Linked DNA regions of Homo sapiens. The protein of the gene in region 1 purifies or fractionates together with the protein of each later gene. This does not show direct contact. Each region holds a gene or a part of one and is shown in the gene's direction. Other genes may lie near its edges.

Evidence for each region.
Region 2: the proteins of DPPA5 (region 1) and DNM1L purify together in Homo sapiens (affinity purification with mass spectrometry; one large-scale study listed by BioGRID and IntAct). This does not show direct contact.

The regions. Positions count from the first base shown.
Region 1 is NC_000006.12:73,352,563-73,355,713, reverse strand, and holds DPPA5 (developmental pluripotency-associated 5 protein), read left to right. Parts: upstream 1-1,437; 5' UTR 1,438-1,488; coding exon 1,489-1,600; intron 1,601-1,681; coding exon 1,682-1,861; intron 1,862-2,335; coding exon 2,336-2,394; 3' UTR 2,395-2,651; downstream 2,652-3,151.
Region 2 is NC_000012.12:32,685,544-32,689,561, forward strand, and holds part of DNM1L (dynamin-1-like protein), read left to right. Parts: intron 1-4,018. UniProt on the Homo sapiens protein: Functions in mitochondrial and peroxisomal division.

The DNA.
Region 1 (3,151 bases):
ATTTAATTTAAAAAATAATAAAAATAAAAACAAAGAAACCCAATTCACTCTACATACTTTAGCATGTTTCTCCTGAGAATAATGACCTTATCTTACATAACTGTAGTACACTTATCCCACTCTAGAAGTTCTAAACTTTAGAAGTTTCTAATACTACTTTGAAATATAGGGCATATTAAAATTTCCTTCATTGTCCTGAAATGCATCCCCCATCTTTGATTCAGAATTATTTGAACTATGCACACAGCATTTAGTGTCTTAGTCAATTAATAAAACAGTCCTCTTTTTGTTTTTCAGATATTGAACCAGAAATCCATTTGTCCCATTATTGGTGATGCTAACTTGGGTCAAGGTGGCTTCTTCCAAGTCTCTACTGTAAAGGAATGTTTTTTTCTCCTTTGCAATTCATAATCTGTGCCTAGGGCTTCCAAACTTGTGACTATCTAGTTCCTCAACAGTCTTCATCTGATAGTTTTAGCTATTGATGATCATTTTCTAAATTAACTACACTGGTGGTTGCAAAAGAACCCATTGTGTGTGTGTGTGCGTGCGTGTGTGTGTGTGTGCGTGCGTGTGTGTGTGAAGAGGTCTGCCTTAAGAAACCCTCAATAATGGACAGCTGAGGGGACATTAGATGTTACCAGGACTGGAAATGCCAGCTTAATCACCATCTGTAAAGCCATAAAACAGTGAAATCACACTCTCATCGAGTGACTCCAGTGCATCGCTCCAAACACTATGTTTAAAAAACGAATAAACCAAATTTATTTACAGAGGAGCCAGAAGCCTGGACCGGTTTTGGCTGGAGTGCGCAGGCAGGGCACAGGTGAGCTTTATAATCCGGGTAGGTTCAAAGACTCTAGAGCCAGGGGCTTCGAAGAACGCTAATCCCTTTAGGTAAGATAATCAGTTTCCGAATTTCGGTTTTCTCTTTTGTTCAATGGCAAGAGTTCCTCCAGAGTTCCCGGGACGTTGTCCGGGTCGCCAGCAAAGTGGAGCCGCGGGTCCTGCTCCTTAAGGCCGAGGGGATACGGACCCTTCTTTGGAACGTGTGAGGCAGGAACTCGATTCGGCAGCTACTGGGTGGTCCTCGCACCCTCAAGCCTGGACGCCCGCTTTCCGAGGTTCAGGTCCCACCGGTTGTTCCCTAGAGGAAGAGGCAAGAGCACCTTGCCCCCAGCCATTCCCAAGCCCATGGGATTCTGGTGCGAAAGACACAGGTCAATGCAGGTGGAAACCCTAGTTAACTTGGAGACAGCTGGGCCCGGGTGAGGCTCTCCCGAAGTCGCGGGAAGCGGAAGAGTTGGCAACCTGCTGGACCGCAGCCAGGGCGGCGGGGCATGGACTCAGGGTCCTGGCCCGGGCCGGGGGCGGGGCCTGGCCGGGGGCGGGGCCACCAGGTGCGAGGCTTTATCGCCCCTGAGCCTCGGCCGGCGTGATTAGGCCTGGTTTGCGCTGGAGAGTGGTCTTGGTTGTGAGGGTCATAAGATGGGAACTCTCCCGGCACGTAGACATATCCCGCCGTGGGTGAAAGTTCCCGAAGACCTGAAAGATCCAGAGGTGTTCCAGGTCCAGACGCGGCTGCTGAAAGCCATTTTCGGTGAGTGTGCCCAGTACTGGCGGGCTGCCCCGGCTCGGGAGTCTCAGCCGGCCCGGGGATCTCATCTCTTTTCCCCAACAGGCCCGGACGGATCTCGAATCCCTTACATCGAGCAGGTGAGCAAGGCCATGCTCGAGCTGAAGGCTCTGGAGTCTTCAGACCTCACCGAGGTCGTGGTTTACGGCTCCTATTTGTACAAGCTCCGGACCAAGTGGATGCTCCAGTCCATGGCTGAGTGGCACCGCCAGCGCCAGGAGCGAGGTGAGAGGCCCAGAGACTGGGTACGCGGAACACAGGCTCGCGGGGGCCGCTTCGCGCCTCTCCTCCAGCCCTCTCCTCTTTCTCCTCTCTTGCTCGCTGCCAGCACCTTGGGCGTCACCAGGGGTGCCCTTGGCATCTGGGCCTTCCCAAGACCCCTTTGGGAATGGGGGCCCCAGAATGCCGGCCGTCGGTCTTGGAGACCCAGGGGTGAGACTATGGTGAAAGGCGGCTGGTGCTGGACCCACTGGGCAGGGTTATCTGAGCTATCTCAACCGTCTCCCCGCCCCCTTCAGTTTCTTGGAGAATGTTCGAATGGGCCGAGTAGTCTCGGGTTCCAAGGTTCTGGGCCTGACTCTCAGGCCCAGAACGCCTGGATCAGAAGTCCCAGAAACGAACCCTGAAAGAGGCGGAGAACAGTCCGGGCGCTTACTATTTTCCCCCAGACTCACGCCGCTGTTGCTATTTCTGGTGCAGGGATGCTCAAACTTGCCGAAGCCATGAATGCCCTCGAACTAGGCCCTTGGATGAAGTGAACCAGTTTCCAGCCAATGCAATGAAGCCGGGTTGCAGAGATTAGGTTGTGGCCAGAGCTAGAGTGATTCCTTAAGCTTGTTTTAAAATCTGCTCCAGCCTAAAGAGTTAAGGGAAAACCATTTGTTCCCTTAAAGAGTTAAGGGAAAACCCTTGGCTCTGAGTCTTGTTGTGAATATTTCTTTGATGATTGTTAATAAAAAGTGTTTTTTCTTTTTTCCCATTTTTAAAAATAACAATAAAGTTTTAAATAAGTTGATAGTTCAGTGTGGTTGATGGATTGTAGGTACTACCTTAAATATCTCTGAAGCACAGCTGAAGTGTGGCCCTGAGCTTAACCCTTAATTGAAATCCTCCAAAGACAAAATGAGGGTCCAAAGGCACACTTGGCTAGTGTCAAAAAGGGTGGAGGAGCCAGGGTCCTGAGATGCAGCACTGAACTAAAAACCTATGGGAGATGTGATGATTGTCTCAAGTGACCTGGACTCACTTGAAAACAACCCTATAATAGGTTGACATTTTGTATATAAGCTGAAAAGCAAATGTGTCCAACAAAAATATGGGAAGTCAGAACCATTGTTAGTGTAGCATGTTTTGTGTGTGTTTTTTGTTTGTTTTCTTTTCTTTTCTTTTTTTTTTTGGAGACGAGTTTTTCTCTTGTCACCCAGGCTGGAGTGCAATGGAGCGATCTTGGCTCACTGCAACCTCCTCGACCCCCCTCCCCCGCCCCCACCCCTTTCAAGCAATTCTCCTGCCTCA
Region 2 (4,018 bases), on another chromosome or scaffold:
TAGAGGCGAGGGTTTCCTTATATTGGTCAGGCTGGTCTCGAACTCCTGACCTCAAATGATCCACCCACCTCGGCCTCCCAAAGTGCTGGGATTACAGGCGTGAGCTGCTGCGCCCAGCCGTGGCTGCACCATTTCACATCCCCTCCAGGGTTCAGGTTTCTGCACATCCTTATCAACACTTGTTGTTATCTTTTTTTTTTAAGCGCTAAATCATTCTGGAATTCTTTATTTGAAAAACAGCACTTTTTGACACCTATGCCATTTCCTTCTCTTATGGACAACTTTTTTCATAGTTTGATGTCCCTCTCTCTTTTTTTTCTCCATGAGCACTGCTGTCTACATTTTAGCATTTATTGACTATAATTTAATTCCTGCTTATGCATTGTTTTCTTGTGTTCTTAGATAAATTTATGTTTTTCTCTTTTTTTGTATAGATTATGAGCTGCTGCTTTTTTTTAACTTAACAAAATTGAGGTGAAATTTGCAGAACATAAAATTAGCCTTTTTTTTTTTTTTTTTTTTTTGAGATGGAGTTTTGCTCTTGTTGCCCAGGCTGGAGTGCAATGGCGCGATCTCGGCTCACAGCAACCTCCACCTCCCGGGTTCAAGTGATTCTCCTGCCTCAGCCTCTCAAGTAGCTGGGATTACAAGCATGTGCCATGCCTGGCTAATTTTGTATTTTTAGTAGAGACAGGGTTTCTCCATGTTGGTCAGGCTAGTCTCAAACTCATGACCTCAGGTGATCCGTCCACCTCGACCTCCCAAAGTGCTGGGATTACAGGTGTGAGCCACTGTGCCCAGCCAAAATTAGCCCTTTTATAAAATGTATAATTCAGTGTCATTTAGTGCATTCATAATGACATCTCTGTCTAGGTCCAAAACAATTTCATCACGAAAGAAAACTACTATTGAGCTGTCACTCCCTCTTCTTTCTTTTCCATTTAATGGCTGAGTAATATTCTGTTATATGTATAAACCACATTGGTTTATTCAATCACCTATTGATGAGCAATTGGGTTGTTTCTGCCTTTTAGCTGTTGTGAATAGTGCTGCTGTGAATATTGGTGTACAAGTATTTGAGTACCTGTTATCAGTTATTTTGGTATATACCTAGGAGTAAAATTACTGGGTTCTATGGTAATTTTGTTTAACTTTTTGAGCAACCACTTTTCCACAGCAGCTACACCATTTTAAAATTCCCACCAGCAATGTTTGAAGGGTGCAGTTTTTCTGTATCTTTGTCAACATTTGTTATTATCTGTTTTTGATTATAGTCATCCTAATGGGTGTGAAGTTTTGTTTTGCATTTCCCTAATGACTAATGGTGTTGAACATCTTTTCATGTGTTTGTTGGGGTTGTCTTATTGTTGAGGTTGTAAGAGTTCTTTTTTTTCTTTTTTTTTTTTTTTTTTTGAGATGGAGTCTCGCTCTGTTGCCCAGGTGGCCAGGCTGGTCTTGAACTCCTGACCTCAGGTGATCCGCCTGCCTTGGCCTCCCAAAGTGCTGGCATTATAGGCATGAGCCACCACACCCGGCCTTGTCTTTTTGCTTCCTTGTTAGTGTCCTTCAATACACAAAAGGTTTTACTTTTGGTTAAGGCTAATTTATCTTTTTTTTTCCTTTTATTGCTTTATGGTGTCATATCTAAGGCATTGACAAATCCAAAGCCGTGAAGATTTTTTTTTATTTTTTAATGTTTTTTCCCCTAATTATTTTATAGTTTTGGCTTGTATATTTAGGCTTTTGATCCATTTTGAGTACATCTTGGTATGGTATGAGGTAGGGGTTCATTTCATTTTTTTTGCACGTGCTTCTCCAGTTGACCTAGTACCATTTGTTGGAGAGACTGTTCTTTCCCCATTGAATAGTCTTGGCATTGTTGAAAATCAGTTGAGCAAAGATTTTGTTGTTGTTGTTGAGACAGGGTCTCACTCTGTCACCCAGGCTGGAGTGCAATGATGCAGTCTTGGGTCACTACAGCCTCCACCTCCTGAGTTCAAGCGATTCTTCTGCCTCATCCTCCCAAGTAGCTGAGACTACAGTCACCTGCCATCACGCCGGGCTATTTTTTTTGGTATTTTTTTTTAGTAGATACGGGGTTTTGCCATGTTGGCCAGGCTGGTCTTGAACTCCTGACCTCAGGTGATCCATCCACCTCGGCCTCCCAAAGTGCTGGGAATACAGGCATGAGCCACCATGCCTGGCCAGCCAAAGATTTATTATATGGGTTTATTTCTGGATTCTCAGTTCTATTCTGCTTTGATTACTGTAGCTTTGGAGTATATTTAAAATTTGAGAAGTGTAACTTTACCAGCATTGTTTTTCTTTTTCAAAATTGTTTTGGTTGTTTGGGGTCCCTTGTCATTCAATATGAATTTTATTTTATATTATTTTATTTTGAGAGGTAGTCTTACTCTGTCGCCCAGGCTGGAGTGCAGTGGCGTGATCTCGTTTCACTTGCAGCCTCTGCCTCCTGGGTTCAAGCGATCCAACCACCTCAGGCTGCAAGTAGCTGAGATTACAGGTGCCCACCACCATGCCTGGCTAATATTTGTTTTTTTAGTAGAGATGGGGTTTCACCACGTTGGCAAGATTGATCTCAAACTCCTAACCTCAGGTGATCTGCCCACCTTGGCCTCCCAAAATGCTGGGATTACAGGCGTGAGCCACTGTGTGGGCCCCGTATGAATTTTAGATTTGGCTTCTCCATTTCTGTAAACAAGACAGTTGGGATTTTGATGGGGATTGTGTTGCCTCTATAGGTTGCTTCAGGTTTTATTGGCATCTTAACCATTTTAAGTTAGAATTTTTGATGGGGAGGTTTTTTCTTTTAGCACTTTATCTTACTGCCTCTGGCTCCTATGGTTTCTTTTCTCTTTTCTTTCTTTGAAAACAAGTTTATTAAAGTAAAGGAATAAAAGAATGGCTACTCCATAGGCAGAGCTGCTGTGGCCCCTATGGTTTCTGATGAGAAGTCTGTTGTATCTGTTGTTAGTCTTACTGAGGATCCCTTGTTCATGACTCTTAGCTTCTCTCTTGCTGCTTTTAGCATTTGTCTTTGTCTTTCAACAGTTTGATTATAATTTATCTCAATGTGTGTATTTCTTTGTGTTTATCCTGCTTTGAGTTCATCGAGCTTCTTGGATGTGTAGATTCATATCACTTTTTCATGCTTTTATGGAAGAAGTGGGGATTTTCACAGACGATAATTCTGCCTTATCAGATATCTGAATCTCTCTCTTAGTGATCTAGAAAGCACTGGACCTATAGTTTTATAACCAAGAAAAAATTCCTTCCTAAGGACTGTTAGGTCTGCAGTATTTTAGAAAGTTTGGATTTTGGGTATTAAGTTCATATAAGAACACTCTTTTAAGCCAAGTGTGGTGGCCTGTGCCTGTAGTCCCTTTTACTTGGGAGACCTGGTGGCAAGGCTGCTTGAGCCCAGGAGGTTGAGGGCTGTAGTTCACTGTGATTGTGCTGTGAATAGCTGCTGCACTCCAGCCTAAGCAACATAGTGAGACCTGGTCTCTTAAGAACAAAAAACACCCCACATATTAACTACAAATTATGAAGTGGTTTAAACTTCATATTTATATTTTGTCATTAGGTAGAGGGTTTGAGCTATATGGTAGAAACATTGTAGTTTAGCTATTTTATTTTATTTTATTTTTGAGGCAGAGTTTCGCTCTCGTTGCCCAGGCTGGATTGCAATGGCGTGATCCTGGCTGACTGCAACTTCTGCCTCCTGAGTTCAAGTGATTCTACTGTCTCAGCTTCCCGAGTAGCTGGGATTACAGGCATGCGCCACCACGCCTGGCTAATTTTGTATTTTTAGTAGAGACAAGGTTTCTCCATGTTAGTCAGTCTGGTCTCAACCTCAGGTGATCTGCCCGCCTCACCCTCCCAAAGTGCTGGGATTACAGGCATGAGCCACTGGGCCCGGCGTAGTTTAGCTGTTTTAAATACCATAAGATTAACATTTCTAAGGACACTCTTAGAAATATTTTATTTAAATAAG